Linked DNA regions of Homo sapiens: regions 1 and 2 are each linked to region 3. Evidence: fine-mapped expression QTL. A gene starts in region 3. Each other region holds a variant in brackets. All regions are shown on one strand. Distances are between the middles of the regions.

Region 1 (5,000 bases), 130 kb before region 3:
GCTGAAACCTCCACCTCCTGGGTTCAAGTGATTCTTCTGCCTCAGTCTCCCAAGTAGCTGGGACTACAGGCATGCGCTGCCACACCTGGCTAATTTTTTTGTATTTTTAGTAGAGACAGGGTTTCACCATGTAGGTCAGGCTGGTCTCGAACTCCTGACCTCAAATGATCCTCCTGGCTCAGCCTCCCAAAGTGCTGGGATTACAGCCGTGAGCCACCGCACTCGGCCTCCTCATTACTTTTTGTGGCTCTAAGGTAGTCCAATTCTATAAGACTTGCTAAGTGGTCATTTTTTGTCCCCAGGAAAAGAGAGGAAACAAAGCATCTGATAAAGCCACTATCATGGCCTTTGATGCCCTGGTGACCTTCTGTGAAGAACTGGGGTAAGTGACTTATTTTATATGTGGAGCAAAGTGTCAGTGAGATCATTTACTTCCCCGGCACGCCCTAGTTAAGCAGCTGACATAAGACAGCCCGTAGGCTACCAAGGGACACCTGCCTGCAAAGGCTGTTGTGTCGGGCAGTGTGGAAGTCAGGACCTTGCTCTTCTCTATTGGAGGCCCCGGGATCTCTCGCAGTGTGGGGATTTGCTCAGTATTCTGAGTGGTGTCCTTCCCTCCACTCCACCCTCTTCTGGGATGGCTGGCCCCACAAGCCACTCAGTTCCAAGGGATGTGACCAGCTCTGAGCCATCGGCTTTGTGGTCATCATGTGCCACCGAGCTGGGACTTCTGGCATCACTTGAGTAGTCCTCACCCTTATCCAGGACCCACACAGAAGCCTGTGGCCCCACTTACCTCGGGGAGTCATGTGCTTTGAACTCACGCATCTGTTTTACCTGCATCTGCAGGCGATGGGGCAGGGGCCACGGAAAGAGTCTGAGGGCTGCTTGGTGTAGTCAGGTTGTGTCCAGGCATGCGGAGCTGTGAGTGCCTGCAGGAGAGACACCCAGGAGGAGTTTTTACATTTTGGTCTAAAAAGCTCTTGGATTCATCTCATCTCATGGAATGATCCTGTCGGATGACGCTGACGTGATTGCTTCAGACTTAGAGGTGAATAAATTGAGGTCCAGAGAGGTCACAGTCACGAAGCTCATGGTAGACTGAGGCCACTAAACACCCGTCTCCTGATTTTCAGTGGCGTCCTCATTTGCATACACCTGGGCCATCTTGGTTTTTGCAAGAAAAAAGCGAGGAAATCAGAGAAACTCTTTGGGCTGTGTGTTTTTATTTCCACCTCCTCCTGTTGACCAGTGAGTCGGTGGCTTCTGGACTGAAGCTATTTTCTTCTCCAAACTGCTGTCTCTAATTTGGCCTCTGTGGCAAGACCACGCCCAGCAAAAGTGGTCGGCTGCAGTGCCAGGACCACCCTTGCCTGCAGCCTTTGCGACCAGAGCCCTTTTCAAGCACAATTAATATGGGAGTTGCTAAATTTGGCCTTCTTAGGCTTCTTGAGCAGAGCTCTTATTTCTGGTGAGGAATGAAAGGGCCAAGTGTTCCTGTTCATTGTGAGTCCTGTTTGCTGAAAAAAGCTCTGGGGCTGTCTGAGGCTCTGGAATGCTCTCTGGAGGGTTAACTCTGCCTGTCCCCAGGGTCTGCTCCGCCTGCCAGGCAAGGGAACAGGTCCTCCCAAGGGCCTCTGCCTTCATTTCTCCTGTCACCTTCCGGGGAGCTGGGACTTCTTAGTGCATCAGTGGCCTGGTTGCCAGGGGCTGGGGTCCAGGCATCTGTGGACTCAAGGAGTCCAGGTGACGGTGTTGCGCTGCCTCTTGAGCAGCCTCGTGCCTGTCTCCTTTGCTACATGTGATGATTCTGAAATCCAGGCAGCAGGCTGGAATAAACGCTGCTGGTATGTCTGTATTGGCTACTGTTCTTTGAATAAGTGAATGTTTCTTTATTGCATAACTGGCGTGTAGCACAAAGAAAAAGCCCCTTCTCCACCAGATATTTGCTTCCTAAGAATAGTTCTCATTGGAGGCTGAGGTCGAAGCAGCCTCCCACCAGCGATCCCTTGGGGCGGGCACCTGGCAGTGAGGGACAGAGCTAGTGGGGTGGGCTCAGCAGAAGTGGGTGCATTTCTGCAAAGGAAGCTGTAGGTTTCTTGTCAGTTTGTTGTGGGGTCTGAGGCACATGGGAGTGGGACCAGCAGAAAAGATACTCAGGTCAGTTAACTAATGAGGCGGGGCTGTGGCAGCCAGCGGTTTTCCTCTCTTCTCTATCTGTAGCTACTTTCTCTGGGCTGCAGCCTTGAAAAAGCAGTGTTTGATTATTCATAACAATGAGTGTCTTTTAGTGTCACAGGGAACAGTTATTAGGTTTGAAGCAACCTCCAGCTTGAGGCCTCGGCATCTTGAGATGGAAGAGCAGCCTTGTGTTTAGACCTGGATTGAATTGGGCCCTGTTGTTTCCTGGGATCTTGGGGCTGGGGGTGCCCAACAGCCTGGCATCTTCTTGTTTCTCTGTGTGTTTACTCATTCATTCATTTATTCAGCTGATAAATATTGACTGATGCCAGCTCTGTGCCAGGCACATTGGACATGGGGGATACACTAGTGGGCAGAAATAGCCCCGTCCCAGAGCCGGCCATGGTGGCTCATACCTGTTATACCAGCACTTTGGGAGGCTGAAGTGGGAGGATCGCTTGAGCCTGGGAGTTCAAGACCAGCCTGGGCAACATGGCAAGACCCTGTCTCTACTAAAAATACAAAAAAAAAAAA[C/A]CAAAAAACACAATTAGCCAGGCATGGTGGCACATGCCTGTAGTCCCAGCTGCTCAGGAGGCTGAGATGGGAGGATCATGTAAACTCAGAAGTCGAATCTGCAGTGAGCCGAGATGGTGCCACTACAGTGCAGCCTGGGTGATGGGAGTGAGACCCCATCTCAAAAAAAAAAAAAAAAAAAGGCCGGGCGCCGTGGCTCATGCGTGTAATCCTAGCACTTTGGAGGCTGAGGCGGGTGGATCACAAGGTGAGGAGATCGAGACCATCCTGGCTAACACGGTGAAACCCCATCTCTACTAAAAATACAAAAAAATTAGCCGGTCACGGTGGTGGGAGCCTGTAGTCCCAGCTACTCGGGAGGCTGAGGCAGGAGAATGGCGTGACCCGGGAGGTGGAGTTTGCAGTGAGCCCAGATAGCGCCACCGCACTCTAGCCTGGGTGACAGAGCAAGACTCTGTCTCAAAAACAAAGAAACAACAACAACAAAGACATATAAGTCCTGTAAATGGTGTTTCGAGAGTATAAAACAAGTGGCCTTACCCTAATCCTTGAGGGTTAGGGAAGATTTACCTGAGGGAGTCAGGTTCAAACGGAGATACAAAGGATGAGGAAGGACTAACTAGGCCATAGAGTAAAGTGTGGTGTGAGGGAGAGCATCCCGGTCAATGAGAATAGCATGTGCAAAGGCCCTGTGGTGGGAGAGAACACAGCATATTCAAGAACTGAAAGACACGCTGAGAACCCAGGGGCAGGGCAGGATGGGGTGGGCAAGATGGCTGGAGACAGGCAGGCTAGAGCGTGCAGGCCCCGGTGCGGCTTTGTTCGGGAAGCTTGCTCTGGTGGCTCTATCTGGATTAAAAATGAGCTCTCACAAGTTAGCAGATTTGAAAAGGAATTTTTATTTCATTTGGTTGTGTCTTTCTCTGTCAAGGATTTGTGAAATTGCTGGCTGGGCCTGTGAGCCTGTTAGAGAACCTTGTTAGCCATAGCTCCTTCCACCTGAGGCAGTGGAGCCATCCTCTCCATGTGCTTTTAGGGTTCTGGTCGGGGAACCCTAAAAACAATAGGGTCAAGGAGCCAGAATTGGTCTCAGACCAGCCTCCCCATCTTACTAGTCTGACCAACCCTAAGCCAGATACAGTATTTTACTAGACTTTTTCCTGATGGGAAAGGAAGACACCAGGGCTTGGCCCCTGAGCCAGAGGGAACCGCGAAGGGGCCCACCACTGGAATGGGGGCAGGTCAGCTCGCCTCCCCTGCTGCCATCTCAGTCCCCAGCAAGTCAGGTCACTCCTCTTCACCCGCTTCACACTGAGTGTTTTCTGTGGAAGTGAGTAAACCAAACACGATGGCAAATAAGATGAGAAGCAGGACAGCGGTGATGAATAAGATAATCACTGCCAGGCCCCCCTGGTCCCAGGGGTTCTGCCAGAACGCATCATTCCAGATTGTCTCTTTGAATACCAGTTGGTCCATGAGAATCTGGAAAAGAGGGACAGAGGACCTGAGTGCAGGCAGCCCTCCCAGGCCCTGTCCCAGGTGCTATGCTCTGCCCGCCGACTCCAGCCTCTGTAGCAGCCTCTGTGAGCAGCCGGCCCGCCTGGCAGCCAGGGGACATGAAAGGGCTAGAGTCTTTGTGCTGGATGCCTGCAGCCAGCAGCAAATGGCATTTCCCCCGCTCTAGATACAGGAGCCAGGACTGGCGCAAGAAGTGGGGCCCTGGATTCTTCCTAGGGGATGCCCCTGGATTCTCCAGTCCTTCTTTCCTGAGTAGCAAGTGTGAGCAAGGACTCTCTCTCATCCCTGAGACCTACTTGGCTAGAATCTAAAAAGCATCATGATAGAGTCTCCCTGTTTTTCCTGCCCCAACTGCCAAACATTTGGGAGGCATTTGAGAGAGCGTATAGGAGCCGAGGAGGGGCCAACTCCAGCTGAGGCCTCGGTAGCCTCCTTGGAGCAGCTGAGAATAGAACTTAGGAGTCCTCTAGAAGCGGAGCTCCTTATCGCAGACTGCAAGCCCATAGCCAGGTGAGGGCAGCCCAGGTGGAGAAGGAGGGAGCCATTACCTGATTCTGCTGGTAGCTGTTCTGGGTCCTACAAGGGCAATTCAGGGTGGTCCTTCAGGCTCACACTTTGTGGAGGGCTGAGCTGAAGAGGCCGCCAGGTGACCAGAGCTGCACCCTGACTCAAAGAAGCAACTGTTGAGAGGAAAAGGCATGAGCGTGGCCAAGCGGCCCTGACCAGACCTTAGTTGCTGTCACCAAACAAACAAAGGTGGGCTAGGG
Region 2 (10,122 bases), 26 kb before region 3:
GACCTGCCCTCCGTCTGTCTGCTGGACCTGCCCTCCGCCTGTCTGCTGGACCTGCCCTCCGCCTGTCTGCTGGACCTGCCCTCCGTCTGTCTGCTGGACCTGCCCTCCGCCTGTCTGCTGGACCTGCCCTCCGCCTGTCTGCTGGACCTGCCCTCCGCCTGTCTGCTGGACCTGCCCTCCGCCTGTCTGCTGGACCTGCCCTCCGCCTGTCTGCTGGACCTGCCCTCCGCCTGTCTGCTGGGCCTGTCCCAAGGCTCCCCCAACTCAACCTCAAGCCACATGACACCCACCACAGAACGATGCTGCCGGACACTGCAGCCGCCAGCCAGACGTGGCCTTCGATTCGTGCAGGAACTCATGTAGTCCTCACACCAACTCTATGGATGGAGTGGCTCTGATTATCATTATCTCAGAGGCATGTGACCTGCTCAAGGTCACACAGCTGGCGAGCCGGGCAGTCGGCACCACTCACCTCTGGGCAAGCTGCCTCTCCAAAAATGGAGAGCACTGTTGTTGCGATTGTGTCCAAATCAAAACGATCAAAATACATTACTTTTCCTCAAATCTGTTCTTCGCCACTCCTGGCCTGGGCTCCCCCTCCCAAGGCCTGGCACCACCACCTACCCAGGTCAGAGACTTCACGGTCATCCTGCACACCCGCCTCCCCTCCCCATCCCCTCCCTCTTTACTGCCCCATCAGCAGATCTCAGCCCTGAATAGTTCTCTATTCCATGGGTCTCAAACCAGGAGCGATTTTACCCCTCAGGAAACATTCTTGGTTGTCACATCTTGACAGGCTGTGTGTGTATGTATGTGCTACTGGCATCTAGTGGGTAGGACTAGGGACACTGCTAAATAATCTACAACGCACAGGACAGCCTCCGCAGCACAGCCAGCCTCAAATATCATCTGTGAGTGCTGAAGTTGAGAAACCCTGCTCAATTCATGCCTCGTTCCCATCCCCACTGGCTGGGCTTCCAGTCCCTTCCTTCTGGGCTGTCACCTATCTTAGTCGGGGCAATGTCTCCTAACTGCTCTGAGCTTACCTGCCTTGCCCAAAGGGTAAAAACATCTCCAGGTTTATCTTTCCTACATTGTAAATGGGACCACTATTCACTCCCTTGCTCACAACCCCTGGAGCCGCAGGGTCAGATCAGGCCCAGATACCAGCAGCCTCCCTGCTTCACAGCCTGGGCTGGGGAGGGGCAGGGCAGACGGGATCCCAAATCCTCTGGGATCTGGCCTCATCCTCCAATCCCACCCTGCTGGCCCCACCACACTCCCCGAGCCGGATGAGTCTACCCCGCTCCTGAATCCCCTGGGCTCTCCCCTTCCTCCTCTCCACTTCCAAGGCCTGAAATTTCAGGCCATCAGCCTCCTCCCTCCTGCAGACTGTAAAAGTGGAGGGCAGAGGCCTAATCAGATTCCCATAGCCCTGAGCCTTGGGCTGTGGATCCAGTAAGTGCTCAATGCATGCTTCTTGCATATGAATGGAAAGAAGAAGGCAGAGCAGGAGACCCAGGAGCCTCCCTCTGCCACCCCCAGGCCTGGGAGTGGGACAATCAAGTTTGGGGATCACCCCTGGGGGATAGGGGAAAGAAGAAGGGACAACTCCTTGCCCCAGCTCCACCCTAGCCTCACTCAGCTGCACAGACAGAACTTGGTGCAAGGGGGCAGGGGTAGGGGGGTGTTCAGCCCTATTTGCTGAGCCTGTCAGGTTTCTGCCACCTTTTCAAAGCGAAAGACTGGAGGCAGATGGGGGTCACTCAGTTCCCTTCCATCTCCCGTGGACACCGAAGCTTTGAGACCCAGCACCCATAGGCTACTCCCTCCAGAGCAAGGGTAGCAGGCTGTAGGTGTCCTGAGATCTCCCATTCCCAACACCTGCACCCCCATATCCCAAGGCCCAAAAGCGAGCTGGCAGGAGGCACGTTGGGATAGGAAAGCCCTAATTCCAGAGGCAAATGTCCTCGTGGCAAAGCTCCATCAGGGACACCAACTCCTCCCACAGGCTAAGAAACACAGAGAGAAATGGCAGGGCACATTGGGAGCGCTGACCCACCTCTCCCAACGGGGAGGTCAGGGAGGTCCCTCCACCCCACGACCCACCTCTCCCAACAGGGAGGTCACGGAGATCCCCTCCAGCCCACAGCAGCAGCCAGCATTCCTGGGCCACTGTGCCTAGCACTTAAGTTACCTCACCCCACGTACGCCCTTAACAAGCCTATGGTGTGGGCGACAGGCACACGGCCATCCAGCTTCTATGTGGCAAAGTTGGGTTTGCACCTGGGCAAGCTGACTTCTACAGTTCTCAAATCAATAACAAAAATACAACCAAAGAGACTTCCTCATTCTCCACAGGGAGACATCCCTTTTCCAGACTGTCTGGTCTCACATCCACTGCTTCCTTTCGGGGGCAGGGGAGCCCAAACGGAAGCCCCCAACGAAAGCCACATGTCCTGCCCTCAGCATATTGGGAGGGTCCTGGCTCCCCGGGGGAAGAGGATCACAGTGTCCCAGTTCCTGCAGCCCACCTTCCCAGCAGAGGCGCAAAGCAGAGGTGAGAAGATCATTACCTCACAAGGCCCCACACTGCTTGGTGGCCCGGGAGCTGAAGAGCCACACTGCACGCCTCCTGCGTACAGGCCCGTCCTGACCTTCTCAGGCCCCAGACTCCTGAAGGGAAGCCCCGTGGGCCTTCTGGTACCCCGGATACAGGTTTGGGATTGGGGTAGTCCGAGGCCAACTCCGGCTCATTCTCCTGGGCACCTCTCCCCACTCACCCCGGCCGGAGCCAGAAGGAATCACGTGTTCAGCCTGCAGGGGAGCTGCATTTTCCTTCAGGGGCAATTTGAGAAGGGAGAAACAGCCATGGCCTGTGACTCCAGGGCCCCAAGGGACCTGGAACATTATCACCCCCTGAAGAGTTCATCCTTTCATCTCCCACGTCCCTAAACCTCCTTGACAACCCTGTGCCGAGGTAGACATGGCAGATCGTTTTATTCCCATGATACAGGTAGGGAAACTGAGGCTCCATGAGGTGGAGTGACTTGCAGAGGTCACACAGCCAGTGAAAGCCTTCAGATGAGAAGTCCCAACTCATGAGGGCAACCTATTCCCCTTTTCTATAAAAGCCCTTTAACCAGGCCCCATTTCCAAAGTCTGAGTCCCAAGAGGCACTGCAGGCAGTCACATAAGAGCTATACCTTAATCCAGGTAAGAGGTGCCTCAGCCCCAGCCTGAGCTGCTTGGCCGAAAACCTGGGGGTCATCTTCCCTGCTCTCCCTAACTTACCTTGTTAAACTGGAACAGGTCCCGCTTGAGCCTCTCCCGCACAGGGTCATGCCCTGGCCTCAGGAACCGCCTCATTTTGCTTAGTCTGCAGCCCCCACTGGAGACCTGGAGAAACAGAAGGAGCTGCAGGGGTCTGTCCTGGCACTCAGGTATCGATTAGGCCCGGCCCAAACAGGTGGAGCAGGGCCTCTCTCTCCAAGTCCAGTAGGCTGCCACCCCGGGGCCAGGCCAGCTTCACAGTGACCGCCCATGCACCCTGGCTTCCCCACGCTCAGATCTAGAGGCCGGCCCACCTCAGGGCTGAAGGCTGTCACCACCTGTGGCCTTATAATGGGGGTAGGAAAAGCTGGGGGAGGAAGCCATTTAGCCTGGCTTTATAAGCACAAGGAGGGCCGGCGGGCCCTGAGGTTAATTAGCTTAATTGTTAACCTGTTTTCTGAGAAACCATGAAACTCCAGCTAAGCAGAAAGGGAAACTTCGCAAGCCTCTTCCTCCAAAGTCTTGTGGAAGGTAGAAACACCAAGGCCATCCTTCCCAGATCAGAGCCCAAGTCGGGGCAGGGGAGAGGCCTGCAGTGACTCCAGGCCAGGGCACCGGGCAGATGCTTCCTCCTTCTGACCTCGGGGAAGGCTGTCCAGGGACTCTCGGCCTCAGCCTCTCCAACCAGCCACAGCCATGAGAAACTCAAGTGGGCACGGGTGGCACAGAGCACTCGGTCAGGGGGTGCTGGCCCATGCCACCGTGCCTGGGGTCTCTGCCGGTCCCCTCCCCTCTCTCTGGCTAGCCCCAGTCCAGCTTCCCTGTGCGCTCATGGGCTGTGCTCAGAAAGGTTCTCTTTCCCACGGGCCCTAGTGGAGAATAATCAGGAGGAATCTGCTCCCAATAAAGAAACCAGCTCAAGGCCCCTAAACTCTCCGCCCACCATAGAATCCATTCCCAGCCCAAGGGGAAACCATTTCTGGATTATCCTTGGGGGAAGGGGAAGGAGCCTCTGTGCTCCAGCTTCTGGCTTCCAGTAGCTCAGCCTCCTGCTGACCACAGGACAGCAAGGCCCGTCCTTGGGAAACACAGACCCTGGGCACAGCTCCGTCCACTCCCAGCAGGATGGGGGAAGGAAGCAGATCCAGGCCGCACCCTGGAGGCGCGTGCTCCAGGCAGGGACAGGTAGAGACAGGGCAGCCCAGTGTTGAGTGCTTTGACTGCAGGAGGGAGAGGGAACACCTGGCCCGAAGTGGGAGGCAGCTTAGATACCTTCGAGAAGA[AGGT/T]ATCTAAGCTGAGGTTTGAAGGATTTCGCGTTCTTGGGAGGTGGCAAAAATTAACCATCAGGTCAGGACTTTGCATATGATAGGATCCCATGTAATCTGGGCAGCGTGGGAGAAGGTAGGTAACGTGCGTGGCAGAGTTGGGGGTGTCTTCGGGCAGAGGAACCGAGGGCTTGCTGTGCTGGGAGGGTGACCCGATTTTACAAAATCGCACTGTAAAAAATGGCAGTCTTGTAATCCCAGCACTTTGGGAGGCGGAGGCAGGTGGATCACCTCAGGTCAAGAGTTTGAGACCAGCCTGGCCAACATGGTGAAACCTCGTCTCTACTAAAAATACAAAAAGTTAGCCGAGTGTGGTGGCAGACGCCTGTAATCCCAGCTACTTGGAAGGCTAAGGCAGGAGAATTGCTAGAACCCAAGAGGCGGAGGTTGCAGTGAGCCAAGATCAGGCCATTGCACTCCGGCCTGGGCAACAGAGCAAAAACAGTATCTCAAAAAAAAAAAAAAAAAAAAAAAAAAAAAAAGCAGAGCCACATCCCCCTTGAGTGAAAGGATCTGCACGGTCAGTTATCTCAAAACCGAATACCAGGAACCAGCCCCCAGAGCGCTGTCACCTTCTGGGGAAACTGAAAAAGGGGGTCATTCCGGGATGTTCCTGCCTTCACATTTTGGAGGAGTCAGACCAGAGGTGGGGATCCCACTTTGCTGGGGAAGAGCAGGTGGCCGGGAAACTCCTAGGGCCCACTTGATCCAAGGTCCCAAGGGGGTTCAGAGAACAGGCACCGGCTGGGAAAGCCCCAAGGGCTTCTGGAATGGAAGTGAGGGGACACCCAGATCTGCTGGCCCAGCATTGCAGCCTGGGGGAGGGCAGCTCACACTCATAAACCAGTTGGACTCCTGGAGGGCTCACACCCCCACCCGGGGCCCAGGCCAAGGTCACTGGGTCAGAAGTCAGAGGAAGCTTGGTGGGGGCTCCCTGGAGAGTGACCACTGCCTGCAGACTCCAGGGAGGGGACAAGAGGGCACAGGGCCATCCGTGCCAAAGACTCCACACAGGCTTAAAAGTGACAAGGCAGAACTGGGGGCTGGGAGGAGGTGCCAGTAGGAAGGAGGAAGACAGGGTGTAGCAATGGCATCAGGAGGGCGTGGACACTGAGCACCACCCACCCACCCAAATGCTCCCTGGGGCACCTGCTGTGCAGTAGGGAGTGAGTGTACCAGACCCTCTGCATCCTATTCCATTTAAAACATTTTGCTCAAGTAATCTGTGCCCATTGTAGAAAAACCAAATACAGACAAGAAAATCCTCCCTAAACCCCAGCATCCAGAGAGTCACAGTCATGGGTCGCTGAATGTCCTGGCCATCTCCTTTCCTTGGCACTGTGTGAGTTTGTGAGCGTGGAGCCCCTCACACCACCCTGATCTGGGAAGCCATCTGAAAGGTAAGCAGAACGTCCCCACTAGACAGGCAAGGAAACAGACCACAGCAGCAAAACACCCTGTCAAGGTCACCAAGTAGGAAGCGGCAGAACTCGGACTGGACCCCAAGTCAGAAGGGCTGTGGGTAGCAGTGATGGATGGATAATACAGAACAAAGGATGCCCAATGACACCCTTGCAATTAAGAGGCAGGGACACGCACAGACACGCTCCCAGATGCTGGCAGCTCAGAGCCGACCCGGCAGTCTGGGGCCTGGGGACTGGCCGCTGCTGACAGGGTGCTGGCGAGGTCTGGCTGGGCAGGGCTGGTGGCCTTGTGTGGACCTGCTGCTCTTCCCACACGGGGCTGGGACCTCATGGGCATGGGGTGATGGAGCCAGGAGGACCAAGGCAGGGTGGGCATGGTATCCCCTCACTCCAATCAACCCACTGCCCAGGTCAAGGCATGGAAAAGCACCACGCTTCCTTGAAGAGGGGGCTGGTCTAGACCTGGCGGGCCTCACCTCCAGGTGGCTCCTCAGCTCCCCACCCCAGACAAGCAGGTTCTCTGCAGAGAAACTTCAGGAAGCCAGGCCTAGAGACGCCTGGTATGAACAGATCCTGCCTACTCAGCCCATTCCTGGAGGGAGCCAGGGGTTGTAAGGGAAAGAGCCCTGGGCTAGGGGCCAACAGGCCAGGGCTCACCATCACAGCACCGCATAGCTCCCCCAAGCCACATGGCCTCCAGAGACAGCTCCTCTGTAAAGGGGGATGGCACTCCCTCCCACACAGATCCTGTAGAAGGAGCAAGAGCTTGGCATGGAGCAGACACTGTCCTAGGAAAGGGATACAGCAGTGACAGGGGAGCAACAGACACTTCACAGGACACAAATCAGAAAATGGGATGATTTCCAACCAGCCGCAGTAACTCACACCTGTAATCCCAGCACTCTGGGAGGCCGAGGCGGGTGGATCACTTGAGGTCAGGAGTTCGAGACCAGCCTGGGTCAACATGGTGAAACCCCGTCTCTACTAAAAATACAAAAATTAACTGAGTCTGGTAGTGTGCTCCTGTAGTTTCAGCTACTCAGGAGGCTGAGGCAGGAGAATCACTTGAACCTGGGAGGTGGAGGTTACAGTGAGCTGAGATCGCACCACTGCACTCCAGTCTGGGTGACGGAGTGAAATTCTGTATAAAAAAAAAAAAAAAAAAGTAACCAGAAAATGGGATGATTTCTGACAGAGGTCAGGACTATCTCTGATCAAAAAAAAGAGATGGGCTGGGCACGGTGGCTCACTCCTATAATCCCAGCACTTTGGGAGGCCAAGGTGGGAGGATCACTTGAGCCTAGGAGCTGGAGACGACCAGCCTGGGCAACATAGTGAGACCCTGTCTCTAAAAAAAAAAGGAAAGGACATTTTTTCAAATTTACATGGAACAATAAAAATTTTGAAAAGAAAGGAGGGCTGGGCACAGTGGCTCATGCTTGTAATCCACTTTGGGAGGCTACGGTGGGAGGATCACTTGAGCTCAGGAGTTCAAGACCAGCCAGGGCAACATAGGGAGACCCTATCTCTAAAAATAATAAAAACAAAATTAGCTGGGCATGGTGGCATGCACCTGTGGTCCCAGCCACTCAAAAGGCTAAGGTGGAAGGATTGCTGAGCCTGGGAAGTTGAGGCTGCAGTGAGCTATGAACCCACCACTGTACTCTAGCCTAGGTGACAGAGCGAAACTCTGTCTCAAAACAAACAAAAAGGATTAGCCAGGCATGGTGTCAAGCACCTGTGGTCCCAGCTACTTGGGAGGCTGAGGCGGGAAGATCAGTGGAGCCCAGGAGTTTGAGGCTGCTGTGAGCTATGACTGTACCACTGCACTCCAGCCTGGGCCACAGAGCGAGACTCTTGTTTCTAAAAAAAAGAAAAAGAAAGAAAAAGAGGATGCGAAGATCCAGCAACTAGGCTTTGGTGGCCAACAGGTCTCAGTGACCATTCCCTTGTCAGAGCCTGTGCGTTCCCTGTTCCTACTGCCTGGGTCACTTTCCTCCAGATACCTTCACGCCCTCCCCGACCTGAAGCTGCAATCTCCTGGGATGTTCTCTCTCCCTCCCTGCACCGCTTTTCTCCTTGGACCTGGCCACGTTTGGACACACTGAATAGCTTACTTATTAATCTTGTTGATTACCTGTGGAATCCCCCACAAGCAGCAGCTTTCTTTTTCCCATTCAAGACCTTTTGTCCTTTTATTCACTGCTGTATCCGAGTGCACACAGCGAGTCCTCACTCGTTATCTGTTGAATGAATGAATGAACAGAGGAGGCGAGGTCTCCACTGAGACTGACTGGTGGGAAGGGGCCAGCCACAGACAACTTGGGGCACAGTGTGTTAGGCAGAAGGAACAACAGCTGCAAAGCCTCAAGATGAGAGAGGCTTCTATGTTTCAGGATGAAGACAAGTGGGGGGCCCAATGCAGAGATCTGTGCAGATGACATGAGAGAGATGACAAAGTGGGCCTCCTGAGCTGTCCTAGGCAGGGACCTGATGGGGCCTGCCCACCCCCCGTTCCCTCCTCCATGTCACTGGCCCTCTCTCCTTGGCCCTGTTGGCTGCTCCATCTACTCAGCCCCACCCTGGCCCCATTCACTATGGTCCCTGCCATTCTCTGTCTGAAATACCTTCTTGCCCCCTCAATCAGCCCGGCCCCCCTTCCAGGCTGGGCGAGGTGGCTCACGCCTGTAATCCCAGCAGTTTGGGAGGCCAAGGCGGGCTGATCACTTGAGGCCAGGAGTTTGAGACTAGCTTGGCCAACACAGCAAAACCTCATCTCTACTAAAAAGACAAAAAATTAGCCAGGTATGGTGACGGGCACCATGTGGTCCCAACTACTCAGGAGGCTGAGGCAGGAGAATTGCTTGAACCCAGGAGGCGGAGGCTGCAGTGAATCGAGATTGTGCCACTGTAATACAGCCGGGGCAACAGAGAGAGACTGTCTCAAAAAAAAAAAAAAAAAAAGGTCACCTTCCAAAAAGCCTTCCCATCTGAACCCATCCTGACCATTCTCCGAGTCCTAGGAGGCTGGGAGGCTGTCCCTGTCCACCATGGTTTTAAGGGATTTTTTTTTTTTGGAGATGGAGTCTCGCTCTGTCGCCCAGGCTGAAGTGCAGTGGTGTAATCTTAGCTCACTGCAACTGTGTTTCCCAGGTTCAAGCAATTCTCCTGCCTCAGCCTCCCAAGTAGCTGGAATTACAGGTGTCCACCACCATGCCTGGCTAATTTTTTTGTTATTTTTAGTAGAGCTGTGGTTTTCACCATATTGGCCAGGCTGGTCTCGAACTCCTGATCTCAAGTGATCTGCCCACCTCGGCCCCACAAAGTGCTAGGATTATAGGCGTGAGCCACCGCACCCAGCCTGGGATCATTTTATCCTAAGGGGTAAAGGGACCATTTTATCTCAGAGTCCTGAGAATGGTCAAGATGGGTTCAGATGGGGAAGAAACACACCTTAGGATAAAATGATCCATTGAAACCATGGTGGACAGGGACAGCCTCCCAGGCTCATGCATGTCTCCTGGCCTTGATGTGCTGTTTATTAAGCTGTCAGAAAAAATCAGAAGCAACCTAAATGGCCCACAACAGGGGATGGGTGAAGTGTGCTCAGGCCTATGACAAAAGGCTTCCAGTCATTAAAAGGAATAAAAGGGCCGGGCGCTGTGGCTCACGTCTGTAATCCCAACACTTTGGGAGGCCGAGGCGGGTGGATCACTTGAGGTCAGGAGTTTGCGAGCAGCCTGGCCAACATGCCAAAACCCCGTCTCTACTAAAAAAAATTAGCCGGGCATGGTGGTGGGTGCCTGTAACCCCAGCTACTTGGGAGGCTGAGGCAGGAGAACTGCTTGAACTCGGGAGGTGGAAGTTGCAGTGAGCCCAGATAGCGCCACTGCACTCCAGCCTGGGTGACAGAGAAAGACTCCATCTCAAAAAGTAAATAAATAAATAAATAAATGGAGAAAAGACCATTTCATGGCATGGGACTATATGTACAAAGAATCCAAGAGTCAGGTAGAATCTATTAAAAATCCCTATATTTGACAATGTACTCGGAAGGGTTATGGGATTAGTGGTGATTCTTTTTTCTCCTTTTTGTTTAT
Region 3 (10,122 bases):
AGCAAACTTGGTAAATATAGAAAAATAAAAACCTTGGATAACTATTGTTAACATCTTTCTTTCGTTTATGTACACACTAATCTCTCTCCATATATTTTTTTCTAACAAAAATGTCATTGTACTAGCATACTGCTTTGTGATCTTTTTTTTCACTCAATAATATATTGTGGACACAGCCCCGTCACTGCAGCATTCTTCCCTGCTGTGAATTTTTTCCTTTTTCTTTTTTTTTTTTTTTTGAGACACAGTCTCGTTCTCTCACCGGGCTGGAGTGCAGTGGCACAATCTTGGCTCACTGCAACCTCCATCTCCTGGGTTCAAGCGATTCTCCTGCCTCAGCATCCCGAGTAGTACCGGGACTACAGGCGCGTGCCACCATGCCCAGCTAATTTTTGTATTCTTAGTAGAGACAAGGTTTCACCATGCTGGCCGGGATGGTCTCCATCTCCTGACCTCATGATCCACCTGCCTCGGCCTCCTAAAGTGCTGGGATTACAGGTGTGAGCCACTGTGCCTGGCCTCCTGGCTGTGAATTAAGGCTTTAAGGCAATGCTGTTCAAAAAAGAGCCACTAGCGACAGGTGGCTATTTAAGTTTGCTTTTTTTTTTGAGATAGAGTTTCGCTTTTTCGCCCAGGCTGGAGTGCACTGGCAAGATCTCGGCTCACTGCAACCTCAGCTGCCCAGGTTCAAGCAATTCTCGTGCCTCAGCCTCCTGAATAGCTGGGACTATAGGCGCCTGCCACCACACCTGGCTGATTTTTTTTTTTTTTTTTTTTTGGTATTTTAGTAGAGACAGGGTTTCACCACGCTGTCCAGGCTGGTCTCGTACTCCTGAGCTCACGCGATCCGCCCGCGTCGGCCTCCCAAAATGCTGGGATTATAGGCGTGAGCCACCACACCAGCCTATTTAAGTTAGATTTAAATACATTTAAATTAAATGAAATTAAACATTCAGTCCCACAGTTGCTCTAGCCCCATGTATTAGACATCACAGACACAGAACATTTTCATCATTACAGAAAGTTCTATTGGACAGAGCTGCTCTAAGGGATAACCTCTCATTTGTGTGAGCCTGCCTCTTGTTCAACTCTTGTTTGCAAGTACACTGATTTTGCACAGTGAGTGTGTTCTGTGTGACTCCTCACTAAATGCAAGCTCTGTGAGGGCAGTGATTTTGCTCTTCTGTTCTCAGCGATGTGTACAGGGCCTGACCCCCAGCAAATAATAAATATCGTTGATCATTCTCACAGGTGAACCACTGTACACGTCCACGATTATTTCCTTAGGATAGGTTCCACTTTCAGAAAAGAAAAGATGTAGAGCTGGGCGTGGTGACTCATGCCTGTAATCCCAGCACTTTGGGAGGCTGAGGCGGGAGGATCATTTGAGGTCAGGAGTTCGAGACCAGCCTGGGCAACACAGTGAAACCCCATCTGTACTAAAAATAAAATAAAATAAAAAAATTAGCCAGGCATGGTGGCACACGCCTGTAATCCCAGCTACTTGGGAGGCTGAGGCAGGAGAACTGCTTGAACCCAGGAGGCAGAGGCTACAGTAAGCTGAGATCATGCCACTGCACTACAGCCTGGGCGACAGAGTGAGACTCCGTCTCAAAAAGAAAAGAAAAGATGTGCCTGCTTTAGAGCTTTTGTGACATACTGTAACTGCAAAAGCTGTACCCGTTTCCACTCCAAGTCTGAAGGTCTCTGCCTTTTACCAATGCTGGATTACTAAGGTGATGAAGGAAAAAACATTTAACCTGGCATGAAAAATGTGAAACCCTACTAATGGTAAATTCTTCACCCAGTCCTTCATTTAAGCATACACTCTACATACCTGCCTGCGCACCTACTAAGTGCCAGGCACTGTTCCAATCCTGCCTCTCAGTGCTCACACACACTCAGCTGCAGGCGCAGGTCATCTGAAGATGCGGCTCGAGTTCATAAACCAGAATAAAACAAAATGACCTGGATTCCTCCCAACCTGCCTCTCTCAGAACGCTTCCAGCAGGCGCCCCCAGTCTGTGCCCAAGGAACTGCACTCCAGCCAAGGGTTCCAGGTAAGGAGAGGCCATTTTCTACCTTAGACTAGTCAGCCAGGTCCCAGGACTAGAATATATGGAAGGGGAACAGGAAGGGGATTTACCTTGGTTGGAATCGTCGAACCACATAACCCAACCTCTTCAGGTGGCTGAAGACCTCAAAAGAAAAAAAAAAAATGAAAGCTCAGATGGCCACTCTGGAAAACACCAAATGGTTTCTCCAGACACAGGCCATCCCCACAGCCCTCTCTGCCCCTCCTGTACACCCCCAGATTCTAAACCCTGTGATTAAGGTTGGACCATGCTTCATTACGAACACCATCCCTAAAGATCTCAGGCTCTGAATTCCTGTCCTCCCACTTACCTTACTCGGCACAAATGACATTTAGCCAAATCCAAAAAAACTGATAGCCATGAAACCAGAAAACCACCACGCCCTGAAATACTTGAGTATTTTGATACAAAGCTCATAGGAGTGAAGCTGCCGATCACCATGTGAACAAAATGATGGCAGGTGGTGGGCATCTCTCCAGCCCCACACCTCCACAGATGCCGGTGGGAAGTTTCTGGTAGGGAGCCACATATTCAACCTTGTGTCCCTGCATTCATATCAGAGGAACATAGATAAGAATGTCCCCCATCCTGCTTGATCTCAGCAGGCTTTAGCACAGCTAACCACTTCCTCCTTGAAAGACCTTCTTTTGGCTTCTGTGATGCGACTTTGGTTTTTCTCCTGCATCACCAGACACTCCTCGGTCTGTTTCTGCTTCTTATCTGCCCCCTAACCTACACAGAGAGCCCCAGGGCTCAGACCCAGCCCTCTACTCTGATGGCACTCCCATACAGCCCAGTAGTTTAAATACCATCCATGTGCTCATGGCACCCATATTTACATCTAGCCTTGACCTCTCCTCACACTCCAGACTTGGATTCCAATTGTCTGTCTGCTTTACACTCACTTGGATGTCCAAGAAGCTCCTCAAAATTAACTTATCTGACACAGTTCTTTCGACTGGTCTTGTCCTCCCAAATCTGCTCCTCTTCATTCTTCCCACTCAGAAAATGACAGCACCTTCATCCACTGGTGCATGCCCAAATCATGGGCGGTAATCCTGGGTTCTTCTCTCTCCTTAATCCTGACATCCAATCCATTGGCAGTCCTATCCATTCTTTCTCCAAAATATTTCTGAGATTCATCTATTTTTCACTCACTGCAACTCTACCCACCCCCAACCTGCGACAAGCCCCTAGCTTCTCTCACCTGAATGAACAGCCCAGTCTCTTTGGATTCTCTTCCCCCACCTTATCTTCTGACAGCACTGGGGTCTATGTGAAGCCAACAGGCCACCACCACAATGTAAGCCTCGTGACAGCATAGCCCTCGTCTGCCCTGCAGCCCCAGCATGTGACACTGTGCCTGGCACCTTATGGGTACTTGTCAATACTCATTGATTCAGTGGATGGGTGGCTCCCGGAGGCGGGGTGGTGGCAGATACCTGGTACTGCAGGAAGGTCACAGTGTGGTCGGTCAGCAGCAGCTGGTAAGCTTCCTGGATAGACAGTGGCAGGTCTTGGTGGAAGAGGTGGATGGAGCCCTGGAAGTGGGGCCAACAGCTCAGCTTATGAGCCCTCACTACAGTGCCACAGAGGAATGGGGCAACTTCCCAGCTCTGATACCTCCCCCTCCCCCTCTCAGCAGCGCATCAAGAATGTGGCCAACCAGGAAAGTGGGGCAGCATCACTAATGTGGACTGGAATCCCTGCTCCCTGCAACGTACCACCTCCTGCTTTAGAAGTTTGGTTATCAGTTCTCTAAAGACCGGGTTGTGTGTGCTTTTTCTCCGATAAAACGTGTCCTTCCCGTTCTTTGGTCCCAACTCCTTCCCCACCTCCCGGGCCCCACTTACACACTCCAGAAGATACAAGGCCTCTTCCGGGTGAAGGCGCTGCCGGCCCTGCTCTGAGAAGCCCATGGTCTGCCAGAATTTGCCCTGTGTGGGGCCCAGAGCAAGTGTCACAAGGGAGGGAGGGCAGGGAGGGCAGGGAGGGCGGTCCCCGGTCCCCGAGCCCGCCGCTCACCGCGGGAGACTTCAACTCCACGAAGCCCTCTTCTGGCCTCCACTCGGCAGCCACCAAGCTGCCCCTGGCGAGGAGTGGGGAGGGGTCTGCGTCAGTCCATTCCGGAGACCCCGCGGCCCGCCTCGCCCCCGCTTCCCTTACCCCTGGGCCCGCCCCTCTCACAGGCGCTCCACGCGCTGCTCTGCCAGCAGCTGCCAGAGCTCTTCCCGGCACCGGCGCAGCCGCTCGGCCTGAGCTGCCGAGCCGTCGGGCAGAAAGTCCTTGGGGCCATGCGAGCGCTGGGGCAGCTTCTGCGACCGCGAGCGGGCGGCGAAGAGCTCCCGGGCGCTGGGGGAGAAGGGGACGCGGGGTCAGCGCCGCGCATCGGGGGCCGCCTGGCCGGGTCCCGGGCGCCGGTTTCCCTACCCGCGCTGGCCCCGCGCCCCCGACACCCACTCCGGCCGGGCCGCGCCGCACCTGAGCACGCGCCCCGCGGGAACCTCCACGGCCGCGGGCTCGGGCTCGGGCTCCATCCCGCCGCCGCCTGCCGCTGCGCGCGCCGCCACGCCCCGCCCACCGCCGGAGCTCCGCGCTGCCCTAGTGCCCGCCGATCCGCAATGCCGCGGCAGCCCCGCCCCCTGCACCGCCCCAGCCCGCTCTGCGCCCTCCTGATTGTCCCCGGTCCTAGCGCCCGCCCGGAAGCGCACCCCGACGCCGGGTCTGGGAGCTCAGCCCGCAGGTTGCTGGAGATGCAGAAGGCCCCTCTTTTGCCCCTAGCCCTCCTCGGGGCTTCTCTCCAGTAAAGCCTGAGGAGCCGGCGTCTGGAGTGCAGTGCGAATGGTCACACTTGTGACCGCCCCTCTGCAGCCTCGCGCTGCTTAGTCCCCACCGCCCGGGCTGGGCAAGGAGGGCAGAAGGGCTCAGGGAAGGACGAGCGGAGGGTGTGCAAATTCCGACTTTGCAGGCCGAAGGCCACCCGGGAACTGTCAGGAGCGGTCCGGGGAGGTTCGCCATTCCTTCGGTGTCTTCCGTCCGGTCCCTACGGCTGGGCTCCGAAGCCAGGTTTCGAGGGCCGGGGGCGGGAGGCGCTGTCCGGCCCACGACGGTGCTGAAGCGCCACCTCCGCCCGGCACGAGCGCCTCCTCGAGGCTGGGGTCCCCGCACTGGTGCCGTCCGCTAGGTGGTGCCATTGCCCGGCCGGCGGCTGCGGGTGGGCGACGCCGGCCGCAGACGGGGGGTACTGCAAGTGGGGTCCCGCGTCTTGGTTGCCAACCCCCTTCACATTACGTCTTCTCTCCCACCAGTCAGACCCGGGGTGTCTAGCCCTTGGGTCTAAGTCCAGAGCCCCAGGTCACCTCTGCCCCCGCGCCCCCCGCCCCTCCGTTTCACCTGGGCGCATGCGCTGATCCGGTCAGCGCCCCCGGTCCGGGCGGGCACGAGTTGGGGCGGGATCTGGCGCGGATGGGGGCGGAGCCGCCGGTGCTGACTGACAGCCTGACTGCGCGGCCGGGACGGTCCCTCCGTTCCCGATCCGGCGGGAGGGAGGGGGGAGGGGCGGGATTTCCTGCGGGAGGCGCCGAGCCGGCCTTGGAAAAGGAGAAGGAGAAAGGGGGGCAGGGGGGAGTGGGAGCCACCGTCCTGAGTGCCAGGGACCGAGCAGGGCCAGCCGGACCCCGGCGGGCGGCCGGGAGAGGTGAGGCTGCGGGGCCCGCGCTGGGGGTCAGCGCCCCTGGGGGCGGGCGCAAACTAACTTTTCTTGCGGGGTCGGCGGGCACCTCCATCTCCCCGCTCCTTCCGTCCTCCTCGCGCCCCTTTTTCCATCCTCCGCGTTTATACCTCGGGCGCTTGGCCCGCCCGGCTTCTCCCGCCGCTTTGTTCCCCGGTGGGCCTGGGCTGGGCTGGGCTGGGCTGGGGGGTTGCGAGGCGCTGGAGGGACATTCCGGGGGGCGGGGGAGCCAGCCCGACCCCAGGCACTGCCAAGGGCGCCCTCCGCCCGTGTCGGCCGCGGGCTCCGCGTGGGAGTGCCCCTGGGTTGGGCTTGGGACGTTTGGGGAGTGAGGGGTTCCCGGCCAGGGCCCCAGGCCTGCGCGGATCTCATGCCACAAGACTCTGGCAGTAAATTCGCTGCCACCGAGAAACTGACGTAAGCTTCTCTGCGGTGGAGTCCAGGGTCTGGGCTTCAGGTTCAGGCTTGGGGGGCTTGGGAGCCCCGTTTGTCAGCAGTGCCCCAGCTCTCTCTGTTCTCTGCCCAGCTGCTCCTCCACCCGACACAAGGGGCGAGGGCGGGTCAGCAACAGGTGCTGTGCAGCTTCCCTCTCTAGCAGGCAGAGCCCCCAGAAATGGGGGGCCAGAAGCACTTCATGCTCTCCGTTCACAAAGAGTCCTAGGACTAGGGCATCCAGCCATTAAAGCGAAGCCTTGAAGCCTCCGTAGGGAGGAATCTGGGGGCTGGTGCCTTTGACAGGGAGTGACCCCTGCCCGCCTGCCTGTGCCTGACCCTCCCGGCCCCACCTCCTGGCCCGCCAGTTGTCTGTGGGTGTCGGAGCCTCGGGCTGTGGAGAACAGGCTGCTGGCCCGGCCTGCCCCAGTATGTCATGCTGCCAGGGCCCCTCCTGCCCAAGGTTGAGGTACTGCCAGGTGCCCTGGGGCCCCAGTGACTCAGCCTCCCCCTCCCAGAATGCCACCTCCCCCCCACCAATACTCCTCTCATGCATAGCAGCTTCCTCCCCACTTTCAGTGGCTCAGCATCACCATCGACTCCGAGGGGAGCCAGGGTGGCTTGGGGGCTCCCTGGAGGTCTTGTCCTGCTCATCCTCTGCACTCCACTTCTGGGACCCTTGCAGGCTGTGGCCCAGCATTCGACAGAGGCCCCGTGCTTTTTCCAGAGCCCTGAGACCAGTGCACCGCTGCTGCCTGAGGCCCAAGGGAATGCTGGCTGCTCTCTGGGTGGGCACTGGTGTTCCACAGCCAAGCCGGGAAGATTGGTGTGCCCAGTCCCAGCCCATCCTGGAGCTGTCGGAAGCCACAAGCTGATATCCATCCAGATTTCCATGTAGCCTTCACCCCCTCAAAGATTAGCTTTCCTTCGTGTGGTGGCAGTTCACGGAGCACCTTTGGGAGTATCCCTCAGTACCTGACGAGGAGCCCACTGCCTGGGACACCTGACTTGCTCCCCCGGAACCGGGAGCCCTCCAAGGGGCTGTGGCATGGCGCCCTGACGCCCCAGCTTGGACCCGTTGCCTGCCTTTGCCCTGGACTCCTGAGTGTAGAGCTCAGCCCAGGAGCCAGTATGGGTCGTGAACAGGACCTGATCCTCGCCGTCAAGAATGGAGATGTGACCGGTGTGCAGAAACTGGTGGCGAAGGTCAAGGCCACAAAGACAAGTGAGTACCGGGTGGGACGAGCATCCCGCTGAGGCCGAGCGCTCAGTTCACAGAGGCTTGGTGGGTGGGGGTGGGTCACTGTGATCTGCATATTTGAGGAGGGTGGACTGTCTTGTTCTCAGTAAGAAGTGCCTCTGTGTGAGAGAGCCAGAGAGAAAGTTGGGTCCCCCTTGCTGTGTGTCCTTAGGCAAGTCACTTAACCTCTCTGGGCTGCAGTTTCCTGGCCTGCAAAATTAGAGGGTTGAAGTACGTTCATTCACATTGTTATTGAGTGCCTATAGCTTGTCACCCAGGCTGGAGTACAGTGGCAGGATCTCGGCTCACGGGAACCTCCGCCTTCTGGGTTCAAGCCATTCTCCTGCCTCAGCCTCCCTAGTAGCTGGGATTACAGGTGTGTGCCACCATGCCCGGCTAATTTTTTTTTATATTTTTGGTAGAGATGGGGGTTTCACCATGTTGACCAGACTGGTCTCGAACTCCAGACCTCAAGTGATCCACCCACCTAGGTAGGCCTCCTAGTACTAGGATTACAGGCGTGAGTCACTGTGCCTGGCTCAGGCTCTGTTCTAAGCACTGGATCATAGTAGTGAACAAAACAGACCCAAATTCCTGTCTTCGTGGAGTTGCCTTCTAGCAGATGGTCTTTCTGATGTGTTCTTTGGAGCCATGAGATTTCTGACAGTGGGTTAGAGAAGACTGAATAGATAGAACTTCATCCCTACCCCCAACCTCAAACGCACACATTTCAACCAGAGCACCTCTATGTTCGTGTCTTAAGAGGATATCTATAAGATAGCTGTTTTTTTTTTTTGAGACGGAGTCTTGCTTTCTCACCCGGCCTGGAGTGCAGTGGCATGATCTCAGCGCACTGCAGCCTCTGCCTCCCGGGTTCAAGCTATTCTTCTGCCTCAGCCTCCCGAGTAGCTGGGATTACAGGTGCCTGACACAACGCCTGGCTAATTTTTACTAGAGACGGGGTTTCACCATCTAGGTCAGGCTGGTCTCGAACTCCTGACCTCAGGTGATCCACCCGCTTCAGCCTCCCAAAGTGCTAGGATTGCAGGCATGAGCCACCGCACCAGGCCACGAGATAGCTTTTAAAAAGGGAATTCTACTGCTTAAAAAAAGTTCAACACTCTCTAACAAGTTGCTAAAGTTTCTCTTCCCCTGACATGTGTGTCCTGGTGGGGTGTGGCCAGAGCTCATTTACTGGAGATTTTCACCTAGCCTCGAGACCTGACCGGGCTGTGGGGGATCCATGCACAAGCGGCCACACCTGAGCCCCATGTCTTGGGTACCTCTGTGGTGCGACCCCCCACAGGGAGAATAGACCTCTGGGCTTCAGGGAGGGCTCTCTGGGCTGTCCCAGGAGGCCGCTGGACTTGTCACCTTGAGATCCCAGATCAGCATAGGCAGGAGGTGGTTCCTGCCACCAGACTGAGGCAGGAGGAGTTCCCTGGATGGGAAGGTCTCCTCTGGAGTTCAGGGGCTCTAGCCCCAAGATACACCTCGGTCCTGTGCACAGGAAGGAGTCCCCCAGGCTACCTGAACACCTGGGGTATGGGTGCCAGAGGAAGGGCCTTAACCTCATGCATCCACTAGCACACTGGGGCAGGAGACGCAGGGCCTGGAGAGGTGGAGCTGTGGGGTGGTCTCTGTGCCTAGGGAAGTGGACACAGGGTGGGTGCCACTGGGGAGGTGCTAAGGAGGTCCCAGGGGAGGGCCCTAAGGTCCAGCAGTGCAGCCACTCCCCTCTTCTGTCACCTCTGTGTTGTTTTTGGCAACCTGCCCAGTGGGGCCTTGGTCAAGCTGCTGCTGGCCTCACCGCTCTGGGTCCTCAAAGTGAGGCCCTCAGGAGGGCAGGCGGGAGGGGTTTGGAGGCCAGTGGCGGGAACTGCAGAGCTGGGCTCTTAGGCTCCGAGAAGTTCCCTTGTGCCCAGTGGGAAGCGTCTGTGGGGAAGGAGGTCCCTTCCCTCAGTCCCAAAGTGGAGAATTCACCCTGCGCAGGCTGTAGGCTCAGGCACAGCATGACTGGGGCCTGGGATTCCTTATGAGGCCCTGGCACTGTGCCTCCCCTCCCAGTCCTCTGAGAAGCTGGAGAGGCTGGTGACAAAAGTGAGATCACAAGGTGACATTTGCAAACCTTATAGTGTATGAAATATTATAATTTCCTCACTTGCCTGTGAGATAGGTATTTCAATATCCGTTCTGTAGATAAGGAAAGTGATGCTCAGAGAGGGTTAGTGACTTGCCTAAAGTCACACAGCCATAGCATGGCAGAGCAGAGGCAAAGCTGCACCCTGTCCCCTGTGCTCTGCACTCAGCTGCCCATCAGTATTACCTAGGGATTGTTCTGTTCTTTTCTTTTTAAAGAGATAGGGTCTCACTTTGGGAGGCCGAGGTGGGCAGATCACTTGACGTCAGGAGTTCGAGACCAGCCTGGGCAACGTGGTGAAGCCCCGTCTCTACTAAAAATACAAAAATTAGCTCAGTGTGGTGGCAAGTGCCTGTAGTCCCAGCTACTCAGGAGGATGAGGCAGGAGGATCGCTTGAACCTGGGAGGCAGAGGTTGCAGTGAGCTGAGATTGTACCACTGCACTCCAGCCTGGGCAACAGAGCAAGAGTCTGTCTCAAAAAAA

Evidence for each region. PIP is the estimated chance that this variant, and not a neighbour inherited with it, causes the effect.
Region 1: its variant is fine-mapped to the expression of TSEN54 in whole blood (TOPMed, PIP 0.96).
Region 2: its variant is fine-mapped to the expression of TSEN54 in whole blood (TOPMed, PIP above 0.99).

Annotation. Positions count from the first base shown.
Region 1 is chr17:75,646,568-75,651,567 of GRCh38, reverse strand. RECQL5 (RecQ like helicase 5) reads left to right here. Exons shown (of 20, transcript NM_004259.7): 8 at 303-382. ERLN (endoregulin) reads right to left here. Exons shown (of 2, transcript NM_001162997.2): 1 at 4,782-5,000; 2 at 3,594-4,197. The coding sequence starts at 4,191. The coding sequence ends at 4,003. LOC107985013 (a long non-coding RNA gene) reads right to left here and starts at 932. Exons shown (of 3, transcript XR_001753017.1): 1 at 797-932. RefSeq lists an enhancer at 4,999-5,000. The variant C/A (reference allele first, on the strand shown) is at 2,716.
Region 2 is chr17:75,536,674-75,546,795 of GRCh38, reverse strand. It overlaps LLGL2 (LLGL scribble cell polarity complex component 2), which reads right to left. Exons shown (of 26, transcript NM_001031803.2): 2 at 3,295-3,399. The coding sequence starts at 3,369. Among named protein-coding and RNA genes, the nearest start is that of LLGL2, 16 kb to the right of the region's middle. RefSeq lists enhancers at 1,288-2,090, 4,451-5,268. The variant AGGT/T (reference allele first, on the strand shown) is at 4,557.
Region 3 is chr17:75,511,072-75,521,193 of GRCh38, reverse strand. TSEN54 (tRNA splicing endonuclease subunit 54) reads right to left here and starts at 4,666. Exons shown (of 11, transcript NM_207346.3): 1 at 4,578-4,666; 2 at 4,284-4,448; 3 at 4,122-4,185; 4 at 3,950-4,033; 5 at 3,539-3,637; 6 at 2,147-2,199. The coding sequence starts at 4,633. CASKIN2 (CASK interacting protein 2) reads left to right here and starts at 5,657. Exons shown (of 20, transcript NM_020753.5): 1 at 5,657-5,793; 2 at 6,986-7,483. The coding sequence starts at 7,390. RefSeq lists silencers at 4,428-4,807, 5,198-5,807 and enhancers at 4,592-4,886, 5,981-6,547.